7 linked regions of the Homo sapiens genome follow. The protein of the gene in region 7 interacts with the protein of the main gene of each other region in a biochemical or structural test. Each region holds a gene or a part of one and is shown on either strand. Other genes may lie near its edges. The genes, in order: LGALS8, ANKS4B, SYNJ1, RAB5B, MAP2K6, GAK and LRRK2.

The links.
Region 1: the proteins of LRRK2 (region 7) and LGALS8 form a complex in vitro, tested with the Homo sapiens proteins (2 studies listed by BioGRID and IntAct, with this or other methods).
Region 2: the proteins of LRRK2 (region 7) and ANKS4B interact on a protein array, tested with the Homo sapiens proteins (2 studies listed by BioGRID and IntAct, with this or other methods).
Region 3: of the proteins of LRRK2 (region 7) and SYNJ1, one has a biochemical effect on the other in vitro, tested with the Homo sapiens proteins (2 studies listed by BioGRID).
Region 4: of the proteins of LRRK2 (region 7) and RAB5B, one has a biochemical effect on the other in vitro, tested with the Homo sapiens proteins (2 studies listed by IntAct).
Region 5: of the proteins of LRRK2 (region 7) and MAP2K6, one has a biochemical effect on the other in vitro, tested with the Homo sapiens proteins (2 studies listed by BioGRID).
Region 6: the proteins of LRRK2 (region 7) and GAK interact on a protein array, tested with the Homo sapiens proteins (3 studies listed by BioGRID and IntAct, with this or other methods).

The regions. Positions count from the first base shown.
Region 1 is NC_000001.11:236,547,982-236,550,731, reverse strand, and holds part of LGALS8 (galectin-8), read right to left. Parts: intron 2,721-2,750; coding exon 2,571-2,720; 3' UTR 1-2,570.
Region 2 is NC_000016.10:21,232,413-21,236,498, reverse strand, and holds the start of ANKS4B (ankyrin repeat and SAM domain-containing protein 4B), read right to left. Parts: upstream 2,801-4,086; 5' UTR 2,762-2,800; coding exon 2,598-2,761; intron 1-2,597. UniProt on the Homo sapiens protein: As part of the intermicrovillar adhesion complex/IMAC plays a role in epithelial brush border differentiation, controlling microvilli organization and length. Plays a role in assembly of the complex.
Region 3 is NC_000021.9:32,662,014-32,665,513, forward strand, and holds part of SYNJ1 (synaptojanin-1), read right to left. Parts: intron 3,059-3,500; coding exon 2,900-3,058; intron 2,704-2,899; exon of another isoform or gene 1-2,703. UniProt on the Homo sapiens protein: Phosphatase that acts on various phosphoinositides, including phosphatidylinositol 4-phosphate, phosphatidylinositol (4,5)-bisphosphate and phosphatidylinositol (3,4,5)-trisphosphate. Has a role in clathrin-mediated endocytosis.
Region 4 is NC_000012.12:55,984,078-55,987,577, forward strand, and holds part of RAB5B (ras-related protein Rab-5B), read left to right. Parts: intron 1-2,791; coding exon of another isoform or gene 2,792-2,883; coding exon 2,884-3,046; intron 3,047-3,500. UniProt on the Homo sapiens protein: The small GTPases Rab are key regulators of intracellular membrane trafficking, from the formation of transport vesicles to their fusion with membranes.
Region 5 is NC_000017.11:69,421,197-69,424,696, forward strand, and holds part of MAP2K6 (dual specificity mitogen-activated protein kinase kinase 6), read left to right. Parts: intron 1-3,500. UniProt on the Homo sapiens protein: Dual specificity protein kinase which acts as an essential component of the MAP kinase signal transduction pathway.
Region 6 is NC_000004.12:887,317-890,816, forward strand, and holds part of GAK (cyclin-G-associated kinase), read right to left. Parts: intron 3,307-3,500; coding exon 3,216-3,306; intron 1,655-3,215; coding exon 1,531-1,654; intron 1-1,530. UniProt on the Homo sapiens protein: Associates with cyclin G and CDK5. Seems to act as an auxilin homolog that is involved in the uncoating of clathrin-coated vesicles by Hsc70 in non-neuronal cells. Expression oscillates slightly during the cell cycle, peaking at G1.
Region 7 is NC_000012.12:40,322,497-40,325,996, reverse strand, and holds part of LRRK2 (leucine-rich repeat serine/threonine-protein kinase 2), read right to left. Parts: coding exon 3,487-3,500; intron 2,838-3,486; coding exon 2,691-2,837; intron 1-2,690. UniProt on the Homo sapiens protein: Serine/threonine-protein kinase which phosphorylates a broad range of proteins involved in multiple processes such as neuronal plasticity, innate immunity, autophagy, and vesicle trafficking.

The sequences.
Region 1 (2,750 bases), on a different chromosome or scaffold from region 7:
ATAAGCCTCTCCTGCCTATCGTATAGAGCTGCAGAAAGAGTAAATGATACACGGTATTTTTATACAGACTGCTGTGTTTGTTTAAACATTTATTATTCTCTTCCTGATTGATGGTAATAATATTAGACTTGTTAATTTTAGCACCCAAAGCTGACGCCTCATTTGCACTGTAAGCCTTAACTCTTCTGTACAGCAGTATCTTACATACATGGTATCCATGTTGCAGATTTCACTCAAAGTTGCTCTATTTCAAGAAAATGAAGTTATTTAGCAATCAACAGAAGTACTTTTGACTGTAAAGCCTACTTTTCATTTTGGGTAGGCGAACTTCAGCCTTCGTTTCTTTGTTGTGCCCATAAAGAGAAGTGGTTCTGGAATGCTTTTTTTAACCCAGGAGTGTGACTGTCACCTTTATCCTTTGTTCTTTTGGGAAACGGGAGAGATGAAGGCAACACGCTGCTTCTAAAACAGCTCACACCTGGCTGCTCACACAGAGGGCCCAGAAACACTGGGTGGCACGAGGAAGCTCCTCCAGGATTCAGAATGAACCCAGTTCCATTGGTGGTTAACTAAGAACTACTTGTCTAAGAAAGTAAGTATCAGTAGATTTTTTTCAATGCTTTGAAGTGCCCTAATCTCTAGTACTGGGTCATGGTGAAGTTGGAAAGTGAGGGTTCAAATAAAATTAGATCTGCCCCCTTTTTAAAGGCATCTAAGAACATCCCGTAGAATGTTCGCATTGAGTTTAAAAGCCTTTGAAGCTAATATAGAAGTTTAATGCAGAAATGTGGCAAGCAAAAGGCCAACTTGCATTTTAGAGACAGAGCTTGCTAGTATAGAAGTGCATATTTCTAAGAAATGTCTCAGTAAAATTCATTAATAAATACTAATAGCTTTTTAAATTTTTTTCCTCCACGTAAAATGAAAATGAACTTAAGACTTACAAGGAATGATGTGAGTGGGCTATTTTTTTCCTAAATGCCTCACAGTCTCCAACAGCTCAGTTAAGCACTCTGATGGTCTTTATGGAGAAAAATAACTCTGGGGGATTCTCGAGTCTTCTTGCCTTCTACAGCTTTCCCTGTGGCACCCTCCACCCCCAACCAGTGTCTTTGAGCTTGGTGAGACTCTGCATACATTAATATGAAAAGCTGGAAAAGAATTAAGGGCTAGCGATTTCTACACTGAGTACTTTTAAAAAAATAAGATTGACAATGGTATTCTTTTCAATATATGGATAGAAATAATATCTAAAATCTGTTCTGAAAATATTCCTAAATCCTGGCAGAGTTCTGCCCCAGTCTAATGTGATAAAATGATCCTCACTGACTGAGCTTTTTTCCCTCCCCACTCCCAAACCTTTGAAATTTCCTGTAACAAGATCTGACCTGTAAAGATCCCATATACATGGAACTTCTGCCAACTCCCCTCAAATAATAGAAAAATCACAGAAATGGAACCATTTAACTTGCTGATACAGGTTTGATTTTAATCACGTAAAGTGGAAGAGTGCTTTGATCTCAGTTGCTAATGATGATGGACTAATCTTTAGAAGAACGGAGGCCTTGATTGGTGATTTCATGGGAACAAAACAGATTTCTGCATTACCTCTGCCTGCTTTGTGGGTCCCTTAGTTGGCGTACACTTTCTGATAGTGCCTGCCTTATGAATGCCTGAAGTCTAATCCTGACCTTACTTTGTTGCCCATAAATATCTTTCAAATTGAATGCATCTTGCCTCTTCCTGAAACTTTCTGTAGGCGTCTGTGTAGACTCTGATTTGCCCTAAGTTCAAATACACAGAAATCAGCTGCCTTGGGCTTGGCATCAAGTTAATTTCAGCACCATGTATTTGTTTTGCTTTGGTTTTTTGCCTTAATTTCTGTGCTCAGATGTCATGCCAATTACTTGGTAAAGCTTGCAGCTAATAGAGCCACATGTTTATTACGATAAAGAAAATGATGTCAGTCAACATCAGTCCTCAGTGATGGGATACGGTAGAGCACTGGTTATGACAGTGATCACTGGGGAAGGAGTTGTGTCTTCTGTAAGTTAGTGTCTTCGGGTGATTTAATATCTGCATAACTAATCCCAGAGGACCCCTTAGGAGTTGATGTAATGCCTGTAGAAAAAGCAGTGCGCAGCAGTAGCGCACAGAAGAGTCGAAGCTCAAGAGAACAGGGAACATACTGGTTTGTTTCACCAAGTATATATCCTAGCTCTTCACAGTTTTACCAAAAAAAATCTGTGCTCAATACATGTTAGCTACTGTATTATAGTAGGTACTCCATAAATACTTGTTGAATGGCATTCTTGAAGAGTCAGCCAAAGTAGGAGAGAGGGCAGAGTGGCTTTAACTGGCTATAAGTGTTGCTGCCCCCAGTTTCCCCATTCAGTGCTAGACACCACCATACTTCATGGCAAGGACTGAGAACACCCAGCAGGACCTAATGGTGCACAAGCTCATTTTAACAATATAAACAATAGAATGACAGTGAGATGCGTTTCAGCAAGGCCAGTATCACAGAAGCCATTCTGTATTTTGGTTTTTGTAGCAGCTGTGTAGGTAGGCTACCAGCTCCTTACTTCCAGTAAGTGGATGTCTCCATTAATTTCCAGCGTGTCAATACTGCTGAGCTCTTTAAATCTGTGTTTGTACTCCAGGCTGTGTACGCCATTTACTGCAACCTTGAATTCTCTAACATCACAATAAATTATCATCTGAAAGGAAAGGATACATGCCATTAGTGG
Region 2 (4,086 bases), on a different chromosome or scaffold from region 7:
ATTACTATTCAAAATGTCCTCAAATGGAACAAGAGCTCTCTGCTGAGAAGAACCCCAGAACCCCCAAACCCTCTTCTAGGAGGACAAACTCACTGGTTGATACAGTTTGGATCTGTGAGATTTGGTGGGGAACAAACCTCAAATCAAATTGTAATCCGCAATGTTGGAGGTAGGGACTGGTGGGAGGTGACTGGATCGTGGGGGCGAATTTCTCATGAATGGTTTAGCACCATTCCCCTTGGTACTGTCCTCATGATAGTGAGCTCTCATTAGATCTGGTTTCTAGCACCTCCCCCCTTGCTCTCTTGCTCTTGCTTCTGCCATGTGAGATGCCTTTTCCTTCTGCCATGATTGGAAGCTTCCTGAAGGCTCCCCAAAAGCAGAAGCTACTATACTTCCTGTACAGCCCGTAGAACTATGAGCCAGTGAAACCTCTTTTCTTTATAAATTACCTAGGCCCAGGCATTTCCTTATAGCAATGCAAGAATAGGCTAATACTTTGATTTTAAAGTAACTGACATCTTGCAGTTTGTGGAATGAGGTAGACTTTCAGTAGATGGAGAAAGCTGGGGAACCCTAGGCTGAGTAGGAGAAGAGATGAGATGACTGGAGAAGGCTGGCTGATGGGGATCGATGTGTCTGAGAAAAGAAAGTCTTATTCAGACAAGAGAGATGGGGAAGATCTGCTTCACTCACTTTCTCATTCAATCTTCAACTCAGGAACTCTCCCAATCCTGGGTTCTTCTGACACTTCCTAAATGTCCCCTATTTTAATAAAGGGTGTCAACATCCAAAACCTGGGACCTTAACCCTCCTTTTCCTTTATCTGCCCACATCCAGTCAATCATTATTGATTCTACATCCAAACTGCCACTCAAATCCAACCATATCTTCCCATTCCCAATGTCACTACCCTAGTCCAACTCATCTCGACCACTAAAACAGTCCCCAAACATTCTCTCCGACTGTTATCCATCTACCTGAGTGAGTTTTGTAAACATAAATCTACTCTGGCAGCTTCCCTACCCAAGACATGGCTTCCTGGGCCCTTAGGATAAAGTCCTTACCAGAGTTGACAAGGCTCTTTGTGATCTGGTCTTATCTCTTATACTTGTCCTGACCCCACTCCTACTTGAACCACATCCAGCCATACTCAGCTTCTCTAGTTCTCAGAACTAGAGCAGTTTTCCATCTTAGGGAAAACACTCTTTCGTCTAGCCAACTTGTTCTCATTTTCCTAATCCCAGCTTAAATGCTTTCCCCTTAGGGAAGCCTTCCCTCACCCCTGAGATTGAGGTAGATGCCTATTTAGTGCCCTCTATTTCCCTTTTTGTAACAAATATCATAGATGAGCCAGGCACAGTGGCTCACAGCTGTAATCCCAGCACTTTGGGAGACCGAGGCTGTCAGATCGCTTGAGCTCATAAGTTGAAGACCATCCTGGGCAACATGGCAAAACCCCATCACTACAAAAAGTACAAAAATTGCTGGGCATGGTGGTGCACACCTCTTGTCCCAGCTACTCGGGAGGCTCAGATGGGAGGACCACTTGAGCCTGGGGCTCAAGGCTGCAGTCAGCTATGATCTTGACACTGCACTCCAGCCTGAGTGACAGAGTGAGACCCTGTCTCAGAGCAAACATGCACACACACACACACACAAATATCATAGATGTCTTGTCTTCCCCTCTCAAATCTGCTCACTATGACAGGGACTGTGGCTGTCTTGTTGATCACAGTGTGCCCAGTGGCTAGCAAAATATCTCTTATCTTAAGAGATAAGTGGCTGGCACATAACAAATACTGAATAAATGGGTATTCAATTGGATTCACTTGGCTCCTTTATTTACCTTGTCCTTTTCTCTTTCTTTACCCCTCTTGGGTTACGGTTGCCAACACAACCTAGCCCTCTGATAACAGGCAGAACAAGCAGAGGAACTAGCTTACTCCTCCATTAAAATCTGGGCAAAGAGATGGGGTGTGTGTGTGTGTGTGTGTGTGTGTGTGTGTGTGTGTATCTATCCACTAGCCAAAGAAGTGATAGAGTTAAGATAGGCTAAAGAGTCCTTGTAGAGCCAGCAACTCCATTCAAAAGAGCAAGACCCTGTGTCAAAAATAAAAAATAAAAAAATCATGAGCTTGCACTGGGATTGAAAGTTAATAAAAGACTGTGAGATTTTGATGGCATAGATAAAAAAAAAACTAAAACCATGTCATTTGTTCCAACCAAGGTTGGCAACTTAAAACCAAGTAAAACAATGGCCTCTTTGAAAAGAGAAAACTATTTAAATTTCATGAAAAGCATTTTTAAAGGCATAGAATTAAAATATCTTCCCTCTTCCCCATGCAGATAATGCCGTAGTTCAGGGTCTCTCCTCTGATTGTGGCTAAGGGATGAGCCACTCCTATAGTGCCAGTCCTCAGTGAGAAAAGAGAGCATCTCTAGGCATAGTTTTCTCTCTTTCTCTAAAAATCCAATCATTTAGACAATCTAGAAAGAGGATAAAGTATTTGTATTGACGTCCCTGCCTCTTGCTGCTGTCTGCAAAAACCTACCATGAACACTGTTTCCAACAGAAACCATCGGGTTGAACTTACCCTCTACTGCAGATTATCTCTAGGGCTTCCAAGTTCCCATGGTAGGCTGCCAAGAGAGTAGGAGTCATGCCGTCTTCATCCGAAAGATTTAGATCTCGCTTGGTAGCCTCTTTTAGAAGTTCCAGGTAACTATCACTAGCAGCTTGGTGGTAACGAGTAGACATTTTTCCTGCTCACCAGAACTTGGCCAGATGTCTCTCCAGGCAGAGCAAGGTGTTGGCGGAGCAACCTTCCTATAGAGCTGGTTAATTAGTGACAAGGAAGAGTGTCACCAGGGGCAAAGCTCATTTCAACTGCTTCCTTTCACGGAAGGCAACAAGGTTCGAGGCACTGAACTTGGACCTTTTCTCTCTGGAATGGCCATGACGTTGACTATTGAAGACTGCTGTATTCATCTTGAGTGTTTGGAGGTACATTCAATTTTTCTATGTCCATTAGTTTCTTGAGTGTAATATTGGCCATCTAGGCACAGGATGTAAGAAATAATTTCTTAATAAAATGCAGAGCTACTCTAGTTCACTAGCTGTTTTTTCCAAAAAGAACAGCTTTATTGAGGTATAACATCATTAAATTTACCCATTTCATGCATACAATTCAATGATTTTTAGGACATTTATAGAGTTGCATGCCCATTATCATAATCCAGTTTCCATCAGCCCTTAAAGATCCCTCATGCCATTTGCTGTCAATCCCATTTCCACTCCCAACCTCAGGAAACCACAGTCTGCTTTCTGTCTCTATAGATTTGTTTTTTACGGGCATTTCAGACAAATGGAATCCTACAATATATAGTCTTTAGTGTATAGCTTGTTTCAATTCACATACTTTTTTGAGGTTTGTCATGTGTAGCATGTAATGGTTTCTTTCTTTTCACTGCTGAATAATATTCCACTGTGCTAACATACCACATGTTCTTCATCCATTCAATGTTTCATGAATATGATGAATATTTGGGTTGTTTCCATTTTTCAGTAATGATGAATAATGCTGCTATGAGCACTGATGTACAAGTCTCTGTGTGGACACATATTTTCATGTGTCTTGCGTATATATCAAGGAGTGAAACTGCTGGGTTGCATGGCAATTTACATTTAAATTTCAGAAGTTGCCAGACTGTTTTCCAAAGTGGCTGTACTACTTCACATTTCCACCAATAACGTATGAGGGTTTCAATTTCTCCACAACCTTGCCAGCCTTATTATTGCCTATCTTTTTGTTTATGGTCATCCTAGTGGATATGAAGTGGTCTTATTATGGCTTTAATTTTCAATTTCCTAATGACTAAGATATTGAGCATCTTTTCATGTGCCCATTAGCCATTCTTACATCTTCTATTCAAATCTTTTTGCCCAATTTTTAAGTGGTTGTCTTATTAATAAATTATAAGAATTATTTATATACTCTGGATACAAGTCCTATATCAGACATATTTGGAACAGAATGAAAATGAAAATACCACATATCAAGATTTATAGGATGCAGTTAAAGA
Region 3 (3,500 bases), on a different chromosome or scaffold from region 7:
GTGGAAAAGACCTCACACCATCATCCTGACCACCCCCACGGCTGTAAAGGAGAAGGAATCCCAGCCTGGATCCACCACAGCCGTGTGAAACCTGCAGCTGCTGAAACTTGGGAGGCAAAACCGAGCCCAGACAACTCCTGAAAGTGACTCTGAGGAGGATGACAAGCCCTGCTCCAGTCACACCCGGAAGCTGACTGGTCTACGCACGGCCGAGGCATGAGGAGAATCATCGTGGGACTCATTTTCCTTATAATTTGGACTTGTATAGTAAAAACTTCCACTGATTTTCCCTGCATAGAAGACTGCTCTCAGTGTATACATCAGGTTACTGAGGTAGGGTAACAAGTTAAAACAATCTTTCTGTTCTATAGTTACTATGAATGCCTAGGAACTTTAAAAGGAACGTGTTTATATAATGACACTCAGTACGAGGTATGTAGCCTAGGAAACGACTGCCCAGATGTGTGTTATGATCCCTCTGTGGCCTCCCAGGTCCACAGTTTTTGAAGTAAGATTAAGGACTGAAGACTGATGGGGACTTGTAAATGATACAAGTATTAGCCAAAACAGAAGAAAAAGGGGTGCCCAAACGCATAATCTTGAAATTTGATGCCTGTGCTGTCATTAAGAGCAATAAGTTAGGAAGGGGTGTGGCTTTTGATTGGGAAAAAGGCTATATGACCAAAAATAAGTATATTTGTCATGAATTAGGACTGTGTGGAAATCAATGTGGATACTGGTGTCATTTGGGCCACTTGGATAAAAAATGAAAAGGATCCAGTGCAGCTTCAGAAAGGAAAAAGTGGCCCTTCCTGTACTAAGGGACAATGTAACCCCTTAGAGCTAGTAATAACCAATCCCCTTGATCCTCGCTGGAAAAAAGGGGAGCGTGTGACCTTAGGAATCAATGGGGCTGGACTGGATCCTCGAGTAAATATCTTAGTTCGAGGAGAAGTTTACAAACACTCTCCTGAGCCAGTGCTTCAAACTTTCTATGATGAACTAAATGTGCCAGTACCAGAAATTCCAGGAAAAACAAGAAATTTGTTTTTGCAATTAGCCAAGCATGTAGCCTAGTCTCTCAATGTTGCTTCACATTATGTATGTGGAGGAACTGTAATGGGAGATCAATGGCCACGAGAAGCCCGAGAATTAGTACCTACAGACCCAGTTCCTGATGAATTCCCAGCTCAAAAGAATCACCCTGATAATTTCTGGGTCCTAAAAACCTCAATTATTGGACAATATTGCATAGCTGGAGAAGGAAAAGAATTCACTCACCCCGTAGGATGACTTAGTTGTCTGGGACAGAAACTGTATAATGGTACCACAAAAACAGTCACTTGGTGGAGTTCAAATCACACAGAAAGGAATCCATTTAGTAAATTCCCAAAGTTGCAAACCGTGTGGACCCATCCGGAGTCCCACCAGGACTGGACAGCCCCCACTGGATTATACTGTATATGTGGGCATAGAGCTTGTGCCAAATTATCCAACCAGTGGACAGGTAGTTGTGTTATTGGCACTATTAAACCATCTTTCTTCCTACTGCCCATAAAGACAGGCAAACTCCTGGGTTTCCCTGTCTATGCTGCCCGAGAAAAGAGAAGCATAGCTATAGGAAATTGGAAAGATGATGAATGGCCCCCTGAGAGAATCATACAATATTACAGACCTGCTACTTGGGCACAAGATGGCTCGTGGGGATACTGGACCCCCATTTACATGCTCAACCGAATCATACGGTTACAAGCTGTCTTAGAAATAATCACTAATAAAACTGGCAGAGCCTTGACTATACTGCCCTGGCAAGAGTCTCAGATGAGAAATGCTATCTATCAAAATAGATTGGCTCTCGACTACTTGCTAGCAGCTGAAGGTGGGGGTCTGTGGGAAATTTAACCTTACTAATTGCTGTCTATACACAGATGATGAAGGGCAAGTAGTTGAAGACATAATTAGAGATATGACAAAACTGACACATGTGCCTGTGCAAGTGTGGCATGGATTTGATCCGGGGGCCATGTTTGAAAAATGGTTCCCAGTGCTAGGAGGATTTAAAACTCTTATAATAGGAGTTATAATAGTAATAGGAACCTGCTTACTGCTCCCTTGTTTGCTACTTGTACTTCTTCAAATGATAAAAAGCTTCATCACTACCTTAGCTCACCAAAATGCTTCAGCGCAAGTGTACCATATGAATCACTATCAATCTGTCTTGCAAGAAGACATGGGTAATGAGGATGAAAGTGAGAACTCCCATTAATGAGTGAAGTTCTCAAAGGGGGGAATAAGGGAGGAGACCACCCCTCATATTGTCTTATGCCCAATTTCTGCCTCCAAAGAAAGAAGTGAAAACTAAAAGGCAGAAATGGAATCACAGGCAGATAGCCCAGCACTGTGCCCTGGGCCTGGTAGTTAAAAATCAACCCTTGACCTAACCGCTTGTGCTATCTATAGATTTCAGACATTGTATGGAAAAGCATCGTGAAAATCCCTGTCCTGTTCCATTCTGATTACCAGTGCATGCAGCCCCCAGTCCCATACCCCCTGCTTGCTCAATCGATCACGACCCTCTCACATGGACTCCCTTAGAGCTGTAAGCCCTTAAAAGGGACAGGAATTGCTCACTCGGGGAGCTCGGTTTTTGGAGACGTGAGTCCGCTGCTGCTCCCAGCTGAATAAAGCCCTTTCCTTCTACAACTTGGTGTCTGAAGGGTTCTTGTCTGCAGCTCATCCTGCTACACTTTAAGGAAAGATAATTCTATTATCTGTTTACCTACAGATGCATATTTAAGTACAAAAAGACCCCAAGAAAATTTTAAAACATCTTGATTTAAAAAGGCATGTTTCACGACCCAAAATCTTAATGCAAGTATTTTCTCAAGTATAGATATACCTGTCCAGCATTTTTCTGATTGATAAGTTGATCTCCTGCTATAAGAGAATCCCAATTTTGCTGTCTTATGAGCTCTTTAACTTCTTCGTTAGGGAGATCGATTCGATAGTTGAAATCACCACACCAAAATACATAGTCATGGGAAAATAGCATCCTTCCCTGAAAGCAATGAGATAGAATTTTAAATTCAAAACAATCAATGTTCAAAAATGTTTTACAACTATTTCTTTGCCTGAGATATGCTTGTCTCCTCCCATGTCCTGTTTCTTTGACCCAACAGTAATAACACATGTGAAACGAAAATAAATCTCAGGACCCCAAAATCACTAAGCCCAGAGAAAAATCAAGCCAGGAACTATGACAGGTAAACCTGCCTCCCATTTTACTCCTAAATAAGATAGCTCCAAAGATAAGAAGCTACATAACTCCCTCACAATTTGCCCACAGGAAATTCCTTGTGGACAAAGTATAGACTGAACTCAAAGTCATCCCTCTGAGACTCACCTGAGACAAATGCACATCTGACTGCTTCCTCTGCCCTATTGTTTATGCAAAAATGCAGATTCACTGAGCCACACTAAATTGTGTATTCAGTGGAAGG
Region 4 (3,500 bases), about 16 Mb from region 7:
GTGGCACGATCTCGGCTCACTGCAACCTCCGCCTCCCGGGTTTAAGCAGTTCTGCCTCAGCCTCCCGAGTAGGATTACAAATGCCGGCCACCAACCACACCCGGCTAATTTTTTTTTTTTTTTTTTAGACTGAGTCTCGCTGTTGCTCTGTCGCCAGGCTGGAGTACAGTGGTGCAATCTCAGCTCACTGCAACCTCCACCTCACAAGTTCAAGCAGTTCACCTGCCTCAACCTCCCAAGTAGCTGGGACTACAGGCACGCGCCACCACGCCCAGCTAATTTTTGTATTTTTAGTAGAGACGGGGTTTCACCATGTTTGCCAGGCTTGTCTCAAACTCCTGACCTCCTGATCTGCCTGCCTTTGCCTCCCAAAGTGCTGGGATTACAGGCGTGAGCCACTGTGCCCGCCTTTTATTTTTTGAGACGGAGTCTCGCTCTGTCACCCAGGCTGGAGCACAGTGGCGCATCAGCTCAGTGCACCCTCTACCTTCTGGGTTTAAGCGATTCTCCTGCCTCAGCCTCTGGAGTAGCTGGGATTACAGGTATGCACCACCACACCCAGCTAATTTTTTTTGTATTTTTAGTGGAGACGGGGTTTCACCATGTTGGCCAGGCAGGGCTCGAACTTCTGACCTCAGGTGATCCACCTCAGCCTCCCAAAGTGCTGGGATTATAGGTATGAGCTACTGCACCCAGGCTGTGGCTGCTTTTTAGGAATATATTGATAACAACTAATATTGAGATATATTTTAATAGCTATTAGCACTATGCTAAACACATCTTTCACTTATTATTTGTAGCTATGAGGATGGTATTTTTTCCATTTTACAAAGGTAGAAGGTAAGGCTTAGAGAGGTAGAGAAATTCTCTTTATATCATATTAGTAATGATTAGTAGCTTAATATTTATTTAGCACTTAGTATCTATCAAATACTTAAAATACTTTAGTTATTTATATGCATTATCTCATTTAATCCTTACAACACCCTTATGAAGTAGGTGCTTATAAGGCTATTATCTCATTTTACAGATGAGGAAATGAATGCACACATATATTTAGTGACTTGCTCAAGGTTCATAGCTAGTAAGTAGAGCTGAAAAACAAACGTGGAGAATTGGACTCCAGAGCCTTTATTCCTCTGAATTGCCTCCTGTATGATTTTCTGTCTTTACGATCTAGTAAGTGGGGTTACTGAAAATTTTTAACCCCAGTTTAACTCCAGTCCCACTAATTGTGGTGACAAAATAATGATGTTTCCCCACATATGCCATAGAGTATGATGTCTGTGAAGTCACTAGGATCTGCTTTGGAAAAGCGAAAGAGTAATTTGAACAAGCAAAGTACAACTCTCAAGCAATGCTTAGGTTTGGGAGAGAGGTTTTTGCATGCTCTGCCTATGCTAACTTCCCTTTGAATTTCATAGTTCCTTTCCGCTCAGAGTCAGGATGATGAAATGTATTCAGATTTAGACGATTAGAATCTCAAAGTCCCAACTCTTCTCTCTGTTCCCTGCCCCACCAGCAGCTTTCTTAGCCCTCTTAGAAGATAGAGGAGCTGATTCAGTGTATTCTTTCATCAAATACTGATTGCTTGCAGACTTAACGCCCTATACCATCCTCTGGAGACTTCTGCATGTCTTTAGAAGGTATACCTTTCTCTGCCTCTAATTTGGAGGGCTACAGCTGTTAGGCCCCTTTGGTGTGGAGGGTAATCTAATCCCTAGGCACCAGCAAGACAGCTGCAAGTTGAGAGTAGGTCAAGCTTACTGATTCTTGATAGACTTTCAGATTTGGAAAGATGGCAGAAACAAAGTGAAAAAAGAGTTGTTAATGAAACAAAGAGTTGATAATGAATGTGATCTGTTGGTTGTATTTCTCTCTTTACCTTCAACCAAAAATGAGAAAGGATAGATTTTGTGGCAATGGGACCCTGGTTAGATCTTTAGAAATGTCTTATCAGGGAGACCGGTCATATATAAAGGATACAGCAGCAACTACCCTTCTGCCCTTAGGAGTGGTGACTCTTATCCCACACCCCTAGAGTGAATCTCTCATTTTGACAAAGAGCTAAGGAAAAATGAAAAGAAGGCCAGGCACGGTGGCTCATGCCTGTAATATCAGCACTTTGGAAGGCCAAGGCGGGCAGATCACCTGAGGTCAGGACTTCTTAGACTAGTCTGACCAACATGGAGAAACTCCGTCTCTACTAAAAATACAAAATTAGCCAGGCGTGGTGGTGCATGCCTGTAATCCCAGCTACTCGGGAGACTGAGGTGGGAGAATTGCTTGAACCCGGGAGGCAGAGGTTGTGGTGAGCCAAGATTGTGCCATTGCACTCCAGCCTGGGCAACAAGAGTGACGTCTCAAAAAAAAAGAAGAAAAGGAAAAGAAGAGCACAGCACCAGGATGCCAAGGAGATACTGGGGATCTAGGGTACCGGTGGGTGGATCTGGATATTCTTCAGGCCAGCTAAAGGTTGATCACTTTGTGTGACTCAAACAAAAAACTTTGAAGACCTGGTGGGGAATTACTGGGGAATTAAAAACTCTCAGTTTTCAGTCTCTCTATTTCGGCTCCCTTGGCAGTTAGAGATTATGTGGTAGGGCAGACTCCAGAAGCAGTTCTTATTTTGCTCTTCCCAACTCTTACCACTGAGGATCAGCTGCCTGGGACCTTCTCAGAGCTAAGTCCTCATAGAAGCAAGGAGATGAAGAGGTTCTATCCTTCTCTGAAAAGCGATTGCAGCTTCAATGGACGTATGTTTAATTTTATTCACTTTTTTTTCTTGCAGGAGTGTTGAAGCCTGGAAATCCCCTCCCCTTCCCCCTCCCCCCTTTACAGTATCCCCCTCCCTCCACCCTTTCCCATTCTGATAATCTGGCCATGACTAGCAGAAGCACAGCTAGGCCCAATGGGCAACCCCAGGCCAGCAAAATTTGCCAGTTCAAATTGGTCCTGCTGGGAGAATCTGCAGTGGGAAAGTCAAGCCTGGTATTACGTTTTGTCAAAGGGCAGTTCCATGAGTACCAGGAGAGCACCATTGGAGGTGAGTGCCTTGGGGTAATAGGAGATTGAATGTTTGGTAAGGGTTTTTTTTTTTTTAGATGGAGTCTTGCTCTGTTACCCAGGCTGGAGTGCAGTGGCGCAATCTTGGCTTACTGCAACCTCTGTCTCCCAGGTTCGAGCGATTCTCATGCCTCAGCCTCCCGAGTAACTGGGATTACAGGTGCACACCGTGGCACCTGTCTAATTTTTGTATTTTTAGTGGAGAGGGGGTTTCACCATCATGTTGGCCAGGTTGGTCTCAAACTCCTGACCTCAGGTGATCTGCCTGCCTCGGCCTCCCAAAGTGCTGGGATTACAGGCGTGAGTCACCACGCCGGGCCGGTAAGGCTTTTGAAAAGAGATATAAGACCTGATTATGGAGCTGGCCCTCTTAGTCCCATTCTTTTCCCCAGAAATGGAAACCCTTTATAAAAACAGAGGCCGGTCCCAGTGGC
Region 5 (3,500 bases), on a different chromosome or scaffold from region 7:
AATTACAATGCAATTTTCTTCTTGTGCTTCTTCTTTGTTTGCACTGATATTCCCATTATGTATTTGCTTAATTATTTGGAAGTTGCAAGAACAGCATGAAAAGCAACTTATAATGGCTGGCGAAGTGTCATTTCTCCTACCTAAGCCTTCTGAACAGATTTAAAGGTTGCACAATTCTCTGCTAACTTTCTTTTTAAAAAATATGAGAAGATGAATTGTCCGAAGAATCCCATCCAATAGAATTGAAGTGATTTCTGCATCCTGTGCTGGTTTTAGGAGCTGGTTTTTAAGTCTATGAGGCTTCTGAAGGATTGTCAGAGACAATCCTTTTTTTGTTGTTGTTTTTTGTTTTTTTTTTTTGAGACAGAGTCTCGCTCTGTCACCCAGGCTGGAGTGCAGTGGTGCGATCTCAGCTTACTGCAACCTCCGCCTCCTGGGTTCACGCCATTCTCCTGCCTCAGCCTCCGGAGTAGCTGGGATTACAGGTGCCTGCCGCCACCATGCCCGGCTAATTTTTTTTGTATTTTTAGTAGAGATGGGATTTCACCGTGTTAGCCAGGATGGTCTCGATCTCCTGACCTCGTGATCCACCCGCCTCGGCCTCCCAAAGTGCTGGGATTACAGGTGTGAGCCACCACGCCCGGCCCAGAGACAGTGTTTTTAACAGCTGGCTGCCCTCTAACAAAACAGGGAACTTCGCAAGGATCACCTCCCAGTGAAATGATTCTTCACTTCCTCCTTGACCACCTCCACTGCCTCTGCCCAGCCCCTTCCTCCCTGGCTTGTACCCCACTCTGTCTCCTTTGATGGTCTTCCTGAGTTGGCCCATGCGGTTCAGTATGTAGTCCATAATCTCCCTCTTTCTGAGTTGAGGAGGATATTCAGGTTATAATCCCCATACAATGAAGTCTATCAGAAATCATCGTAATTTTTTTTTTTTTTTTTTTTTTTTTGAGATGGGGTCTTGCTCTGTCACCCAGACTGGAGTGCAGTGGTGCAACCTCAGCTCACTGAAACCTCTGATTCCCAGTTTCAAGCAATTCTCCTGCCTCAGCCTCCCGAGTAGCTGGGATTACAGGTGCCTGCCACCATACCAGGCTAATTTTTGTATTTTTAGTAGAGACAGGGATTCATCATGTTGGCCAGGCTGGTCTCAAACTCCTGACCTCAGGTGATCCACCCACCTCGGCCTCCCGAAGCACTGGGATTACAGGTATGAGCCACCACGCCTGGCCAAATCATCGTAATTTAGTCAACTCCAGTCTGAGTTGAAGCATTAAATAAGCATTTGCAGCATCCCTGTCATCTGTTTTACTTTCTGGTCTGTACATCCCTTCTTAAGTCAGATTCTTGAGATTAGTCTTCTTTGGACAGACCATTAGCCCCAGGTGGAGCTGCTGATCACAACCCCTCCCTGTACCACTCCCAAGGCTGTTGTCATCATCACTTACCCTAAGCCAGTTACTTTTCATATAGTATGCTTTAGGATGTCCCATAAACACTATGGACAAAGTTGGTGTTATTATCCTTAATTTACGAGTGAGGAAATCAATTGTTGTTAACCAATTTGCCCATGGCTGGATAGCGAGTCAGTGGCAGAGGCAGGATGGATGTCTGACTGGTGGGCCTGTGCAGCAAACTGCAGCTCCTGGGCCAAATCTAGCTTCAGCTGTTGTTTTTGTTTGTTTGTTTGTTTGTTTGTTTGAGATGGAGTTGCGCTCTTGTTGCCCAACTGGGAGTGCAATGGCGCGATCTTGGCTCACTGCAATCGCCACCTCCTGGGTTCAAGCGATCCTCCTGCCTCAGCCTCCCGAGTAGCTGGGATTACAGGTGTGCACCACCACGCCCAGCTAATTTTTTGTATTTTTAGTAGAGACGGGGTTTCACCATGTTGGCCAGGATGATCTCGATCTCTTGACCTTGTGATCCGTCCTCCTCGGCCTCCCAAAGTGCTGGGATTACAGGCGTGAGCCATCGTGCCCGGCCAAGCCTCAGCTGTTTTTAAGTATAGCCCGTGAGCGAAGATGGTTTTCCCATTTTTAAATGATTGAAAAAAAATCAAAATCAATGTTTCATGACACATGAAAATGATACGAAATTCAAATTCAGCATCGACAAACAAAGTTTTATTGGAACACAGCTATGGTCATTCATTTATATGTTTTCCATGGCTGCTCTTTGCTCGACAGCTGTCGAGTTGAGTAGTTGCGCCAGAGCCCCTATGTCCCACAAAGCCAAAAATATTTGCTATCTGGTCCCTTGCAGAAAATGTTTGTTGACCCTTTCCTTTATGACTTTATTCCATCGAATACTGGGGTCTCTTCATGACAGAGCTCCCAGAAACATTCCTCTCTGGCTTTAATTGGAAGTTGTTAACCTGGATAACTACTGCTCTGCTGCTCAGCCAGAGACCTCTTGGGCCCAGCCCACAGGAAACGTCTGAGTGGTGTCTCTCCTAGTTATAAGAATTGTAGGTCATTGCTCATTTCCTCTGAACTAAGTTACCCGTCTCCTTTTGCCCGTCCTGGGGTCTTTTCCCCTTAGTTGTGTTCTTCCTGTTTGCTTTATATTTCTTTCCTTTTTTTCTTCCCTTCGATGAGAAGCTGCTTATTAATTCTTCCCTGAGACTCTTCATCCTCCCCTTATTGATCCCACATTTCTTTAGAAAGTATTAGGTTGGTGCAAAAGTAATATTGTTTTTTATCATCACTTTTCATGGCAAAAACCACAATTACTTTTGCACCGACGTAAGAAATCAAAAATAACTCTCCTGCTACCACCATTGCCTGGCTTGTTGGTTATCATCATGACCCAGCTCAGAGGTTCCATCATTTCTTTTGTGTCAACGTGAAAGCCTCCCTGCATGGGACCAGAGAGGTTTCCAGTTATCATCTCCTGCAAAGTTTAGAGCTGTTTTCTTACATTAACCCCCTAACCCCGGGTGGGCAATTTTCTTTTGAGGACGAATATTCTTTGTGCTCACAGAGTCGCTTACATCGTGGATATTGGGTATATTTAGGAGAGAAGGTTTTGATAGAGGGTCTGAAAATGAAGGGAGGTGAAAGCTACATGTAGACAGAGGAGCTTTGGTAGAATGAGCCCAGATTTGTTCACCACATCCAGAATGATGTAAATTTAAGTCACGTACAAAGAAGTGCTAATTTCTACCATCCCAGATGGTATCACTGCTGTGATTCTTTCTGTGCTCCAGATACTGTGCTTAGTGATGAATGTGAATTCTATCATTTACTCTCACTATGGATCAGTGAGGTGATATCCCATTTTGTAGATCAGCAAACTGAGGCCGGAGAGGTTAAGAACTTGCCTCAGTTACCAAACCGATAGTGGCAGAGCAGAGGTTTTAGCCAAGGTCTGTCTGACCTCAGAATCTGAGCTCCTGGCGACTCCACTTGAGACGTCACTCCAAAATAAAGGTATGAAATCCATTACACCAAAGACATGGTCGAAGAATGAAAAACGAGTGTATTCTGTAGGAATTT
Region 6 (3,500 bases), on a different chromosome or scaffold from region 7:
TGCACGCGGCTCATGCTCACTCACAGGCACTCCTACGCATGCATACATGTGCACACAGCTCAGGCACAGGCACTCGCGCGCATGTGCACACATGCATGCGGCTCACATGCACTCACAGGCACTCGCACACATGCATACACATGCACGCAGCTCACGCACACAGGCACTTGTGTGCATGCGTACACATGCATGTGGCTCACACACACTTGCATGCGTGTGTACACATGCACGCAGCTCACGCACACTCACAGGCACTCCTACTCATGCGTACACATGCACGCGGCTCATACAGGCACTCGCGCGCATGCGTACACATGCATGCAGTTCACGTGCACTCACAGGCACTCGCACACGTGTACACATGCACACAGCTCACGCGCACTCACAAGCACTCCTACACATGCATACACATGCACACACGCATACATGCTCCAACATGCACATGTGCTCATACACGTGCCTGCACACAATACGAGCACTCAGCTCACACAAGGATTCACAAGCACAAGGACTCACAAGCACCAGCACACATGCTCATACCAGCAATCACACACGCCTATGCACATACTCACACCAGCATTTACACACACATGCACACATGTTCACATATGTATGTTAACACACCCATTCCCTCACATGCACACATGCTCAAAGACACATGCACCCACGCTCACATGTGCAGACGCTGCGGTACATGCAGGCACAAGTGCACACACGTCTACCTGGTGCTGGGGACACAAAACAGTGATCACAGCACAGAACAAAAAACATAAGAAAAAGCCCGAAGGTGTCGCCAGCTGTGGAAGGAACGTGGGCCCACCAGGGGCCGCAGTTCCTGCATCACGGGCACCAGTCCAGCCCAGCTCCTAGGCTGTTTCCTGACATAGCCGACGCCCTTGAGCTGGTGCGACCGCAGGGCCAGATGAGCAGCCAGCGTGCTCCTGGGCGTTCAGCTCCTCAGAAGAGCCAGCGCATGGACCCCGCAACGCAGAGGGGCCGCACTCTGGAACATTCCCAGTGTTCCGTGAGCAGAGGCTGCCGGGCCTGTGGGCCGATGTCGGGGCCACCCCCGCACAGACGCGCCCTTGGACAGCCCACCCAGAGGGAGACTTTCTCCCACCACAGGCTGGGACTCACCTGGTCTAAGTCTGAGTAACTAGGGCTTTAACTCAAGGACTGGCTCAGTGAGGCGCCACCACCGAGGTTTCACCCAATTTACAGAGTCCCGGGAACAAGCCAGGAACGCCCCAGAGTGAGGGGCGACATTGCAGCAAGGGAGGGGAGGGCCCAGGCATCTCCTCAGCAGGGCCTTGCCCCCCAGGCGATGAAAGGAAAGGGATCTGCCTGGCTCTGTGGGATGCTGGGCTCATTCCGACTCCCTGGGAGAAGCGGGTGATGCTGTCCCACTGCCTCAGGGGCCCCTGTGGGGCCTGATGACCAGCTGTTCCACCGCAGCCAGGAAGCAAGGGCCGGGGCTGCAGCCTGGAACGAGCGTGCGGCAGGTCCAGGGCTCTGGAGCCTCACACTCACTTAGCGACGGACTGGATGACCTTGGAGGAGGTGTCCTTGAGGTTGGTGAAGAGCCGCTCTGTCCCACCCCGCAGAATGTCCAGGAAGCCGCCATACGGCTGGTCGTACTCCGCCAGCGCCAGGCCTGCAGGGAGACACAGTCTCAGCAGGCCCCAGGTGCTCGGTCCCACCTCCCCAGGTGCGGGTTGCTGGCTGGGCCCAGGCCCCAGGCGCTCGGTCCCACCTCCCCAGGCGCTCGGTCCCACCTCCCCAGGTGCAGGTTGCTGGCTGGGCCCAGGCAGCAGGAGCAGGGAGTGGGTGGTATGGCCAGGCCCCTGACCCACACGTACCCAGCGGGAAGCCAGGCCTCAGCACTGGCAGGTCTACCCTGTCCTCAGCCTTTCCAGAGACCCAGGAAATGGTCAATCTGGGTGCGGAAGGGCTATGTGGCCGCCTCAGCACAGCTGGGGCTGGGACTCTGTCTGTGGGGATAGTCCGGCCTCACGGCCACAGCTTCAGGCCACCATGACCCTGGACGTGAAGGCAGAGTGGTGGCCCCTGGCCTGGTGGGTCCTGCGAGTGAGGTCTTCACAGGCGGCTTTGGTGGCACAAGTGGTGTTAAAAAAAAAACACCTGGCCAAAGTCCCTCATGCAGACAGGAGACCGAGGCCCAGGCAGCACCGAGCAGATGGGGGCACTGCAGAACCCAGCAGCTCGAGGACTCACCCTTCCTCCAGCCAGCAGAGACCCAGCCAGCCACTACACCTGCATGTGTGGGACCCACACTGCACGGACCGGGGTGCCCCAGACATGGAGCTGAGCTCCTCCCTGGGAAGCGGAGGTGAAGGACCCAGGTGAAACCTCCCACACCGCAGTGGGGATGCGGGGCGAGGTCGGGAGGGGTCAGCGCCATGCAGAGCTGCAGACCCAGCCGCTGCCTGTCAGGGCCATGTCCTCGACGGCTCACCCGGAACCTTCTGGAACACTCCCGGCACGGAGTTCCAAGAGCATGCAGCGTCTGTCTCCAGGGCCCTCTCCACTCCTCACCAGCTGAGGGCCCTCCAGGGACACCCAGGCCCATCACAGGTGCCCACTCCTCATGCGGCAGAAGGGGCCACCTCACACTAGCGGCAGAACTGTCTTCCCCCACCGCCCTCCACTGTCCAATGCCTGCTCCTGCCCCCTGGCCTCAGGGTCGCTACTGTAGTAAATGGTTCACCTTGCCCACAGCAGGCCTGGCCCTTCATTCCCAGCTCCTGGGAAGGAACCTGGGATGCCCCCTCCAGCCCCAAAAGGGGTGTCTGTTTCCCTGGGGCCTTGGGCTGTGCCAGACACGACAATGTGATCTATGCTGGGGTCTTGGCCACGGCGCAGGCTGCCTCCCACATAACCCCTGAGCGAGGCCGCCTGGTCACTCGGGCCCGGTCTCCTGGGCCCTGCCCTGGAGCCTCTTCCCTTGGCTGGCTTTAGTCCGAATCCTGACCCCCTCCTGAACTGCACCAAGACACCAGCTTTGCTGAGCTCTGTGAGCCCCAGGGAACTGCCGAACCTGAGGGTGTGCTCAGGGACCCTGACCTCACAGTCATCTCTGGTGGGAGAGGAGGCCCCGGGAGAGAAGGACCCCAGACTCCATCCCAATGTGCTGCGGGTGCCCGGGGTGCAGCAGGAGCGAGGGACAGGTGGCGGGCACAGGACAGGGCACTCACCTCCACTGTAGCCACTGCCAGCGGGGCCCACGGGAGGGGGTGGCCCTCGGGACAGTGTGGCGCTCCCGTAGCCTCCATTCTGCTCCAGGAGCTGTGACAATGAAAATGCAGAGGTCAGTTCTCTAAACTGACAACTCACGCCTGCCCACGTCGGGCAGAGGTACGGTATGGGTGCCCTCAGAGCCCATCCTTCTGCCCCCTGATCTATGACACAGTGCAAGGGAGGAACTTCCCACAGGCTGAAGCATCAGCTGGAACTCAACAAACGCACGCAGCCCTCATCCC
Region 7 (3,500 bases):
CACACCACTGAAGTGGAAATACCTGTCTTGGCTCTCCAGAAAAATAAATAGCTCCACAAAGAGGAAATGTACCCTGTGGCTTCTCAGACGCATGAACAGAATCCCATACATTTATATTTTAAAATATATTCACAAAACAAGTCTATTCATATCTATTAAGGTGGGTCGTATTACTCACTGCATAATAGTTACTGCTATCTTGGGAAAAAGAGTTACCAAAAGCCTGAATGCATTGCTGCCCTACAAATAAAAATGGAAAGAGGGAAAATTGAGAGAGGCATAACCTTCTCCAGATTACTCTAATATAAAGATGCTGGAGTCGCTACCTGTAAAATGTTTTTAGAAGGATACACCTAATTTGTTTAAATCACTGGTATTCAACCCCACCCCTTATCTTTGGCAACATCCGGAGACATTTTTGATTGTCACATCTGAGGGAAGGGGAGATACTACTGACATCTAGTGGATAGACAGAGATGCTGCCAAACATTCTGCAGTGCACAGGATGACCCTCGATAAGAAAGAGTTAGTTATCCAAGCCAAAATGGCAACAGCTCAAAGACTGAGAAACTCCTATCTAGACTGCTTTCTGTAAATGAACATGGGATTTATGGATTTATGGGACATGGGTCTAGAGAAGGGAGAGTAATCACAAACATTTTCCTATATGGGTAGCTAAACAGACTTTGCTTTTTTGTTTTTTGTTTTGTTTTGTTTTGAGACGCTCTGTCGCCTAGGCTGGAGTGCAGTGGCACAACCTCGGCTCACTGCAACCTCCGCCTCCCAGGTTCAAGCAATTCTCTGCCTCAGCCTCCCGAGTAGCTGAGATTACAGATGCCCACCACCACACCCAGTTAATTTTTTTGTATTTTTAGTAGAGATGAGGTTTCACCATCTTGGTCAGGCTGGTCTTCAACTCCTGACCTCGTGATACACCCACCTCGGCCTCCCAAAGTGCTGGGATTACAGGAGTGAGCTACTACACCTGGCCAACTAAACAGACTTTGTAAATGACGTTTCCACATACACTACTCAAAACGTGTCCATTCATCTGAAACACATTTTAATGCAGGAAAAAGAAATATTTTAGGGATCTGTGTCTGACAGTTTGGGATTTCTTCAGAGGAAGGATGCACCATGTCTGGTACTTTCCTGTATACCTTGAAGTCTGGGGTTAAGATGTAGGATTCAGCAAGGACAATTCAGCATTTTATGTTAACCCACTATTACTAATACATTAACTTCCTGAGTTCCAAAGCATTTAAATTCAACCTAAACTTCCCAATCAATGCCAATAAGAGGGGTATAAAGGAGTTTATTTAGCTTTAAATATCATGTCTCAAATTTTGGACAACTTTTTGCTAATAATATTATGTCCTGACTGACAGATCTTAGGCATTATTTCTGGGGTAATTTGATTAAAATTAAATGTATACACACAACAACAACAAAAACTAAACAAAGTAAGGTCAAAATTGTCTTCAAATGCTTTATATTAAATCAATCTAATGCATTTCATAGTTGTCCCAATGACTCTCAGGAATGTTTAAAACTTGAGTATGTCAGCCTACAGTTAATAATAACATACTGTATACTTGTAAATTGCTATGAGAGTAGATTTTAATAGTTCTCACCACATAAATATTTGAGATAATGTATATGTTAAATAGCTAAACTTCTCCATTCCACAACATATACATATATCAAAACATCATGTTGTACACCATAAATATATACAATTTTTACTTGTCAATTAAAAAAATTTGTACAAAGTATATCTTTTTTTAAAAATGATAACCGAGGAGCCAGACAGATCACAGCATCGCAGGTCTTGTAAAGACATTAGCTTTTATTCTGAGAGACATGAGAAACCACACATGTAATCTACAGAATGACATACAGTAACATATGTTGACTGTTTCTTTCCCAAAGTAGTTATAATGCATACACTTTTCATCTTCTGAAGTGTATGAGCATGTTTTAAAAACATCTTTTAGGCCCAAAAATCCATGTGCAGGAAGTCAAGATACAAATGAGAATATTGAAACATGGTTACCATGACTTCACCTTTTCTCAATGAGCACCTAAACATGCTACATGAATTCAATGATTTCCATCATACTCTACTGAAAATCACTGATTGAATTCACGGAACCAAGAAATGTAAATTGTTCAGCATATCAAAAAAAAAAAAAAAAGTATTTGAGTATGTCACCATGTAACACTTTTGACTTTAATTTCAAGGCTTTTAATGAATATTTCTATGAGAATTCAGCATTGTCACACTGAGTCATAAAACCCCTGCTATGGCTACACTGAGGTGTGCTTCCTTTACCTATTCTGTCATTTTATAAAATATGGCTGCTTCACTTAACTCACCTGAAAACTGTCTTATTTGCCTCCCATATCCCTGGCAATTAAGGCAAATACAAAGATATATTTCATAAATATTTCTGCTTCCATGATAATCTCATCCTCATCTTGATCCTAGTCTACATGATTATGTGCAAAACAAATTCCAGATCTGTAATATTATATTCCTTTAAAATATATCATTCCAAATACAAAAATTATAACAAATATATGAAGACAGTAAAATCTATGACAATATAATTATGAAATCTATTTTCTAAATTATAAGGAGAAAATTACATCCTAATTTTTATTCTCAAATTAACAAAAAGAATTACCTAGGAGAAACTCTGGAGCTTGTTCAAATTCCAACTCATCATTATTCAACATAATATTTCTAGGCAGGTCAGCCAAAATCAAGTCAGGGGCAATCTGAGATATTGGAATGGTGAGCCTTGGTTGATCTGGATTTACTAAGAGATCTCCTGAGAAGTAATAAAACATTTTTTAAATAAAAACAACATTTAAGGAGATACATAAATTTGTGGTTTTGATGTGAAAAAATAATGGAATATTTTCTATAATTTCTAATCCCTCCCTTTCTAACCAATCCTATATTTCTCTAGGAAATTTGAGAACATTTTAAAGATTCACTTAGTATCTATCTACTTGGAATTTTAAAAACTTATTCCTACGTTCACTTGTAGAATTCTGAACTGCTGCAGACTACCAGACATCTGACTAGAAAGTTATCTACTCTCTGCTTTTGCCACATTCATGAAGCTGCAGCTGTTATTATATGGCAGACATGTTGGTAAATTAGGTCCATGTATTGTCTATTTGAATCTTTATAACAGTTCTATGAGATAGATGTGGTTGGTATTCCGGTTTCACAGATGAGGTTATGTTGCTCAATAAGCCAGCATTCAAACCCTCAAATCAACATTTTCTGAATCTAGAATACAAGATTTTATTGGTAATAAATATAATTCAGTTTTCTGAACTGTCCCTATAATTGAATATACTATTTTTCAACTCATCCCTTATGGATAAGAATATTTACATTTATTAAAAGTCACTTCATAAGTATTGAAGGATCACTTAAAAGCATTTGTAAGTTGTATCAAAACATACCTTCCTCTGCTTTC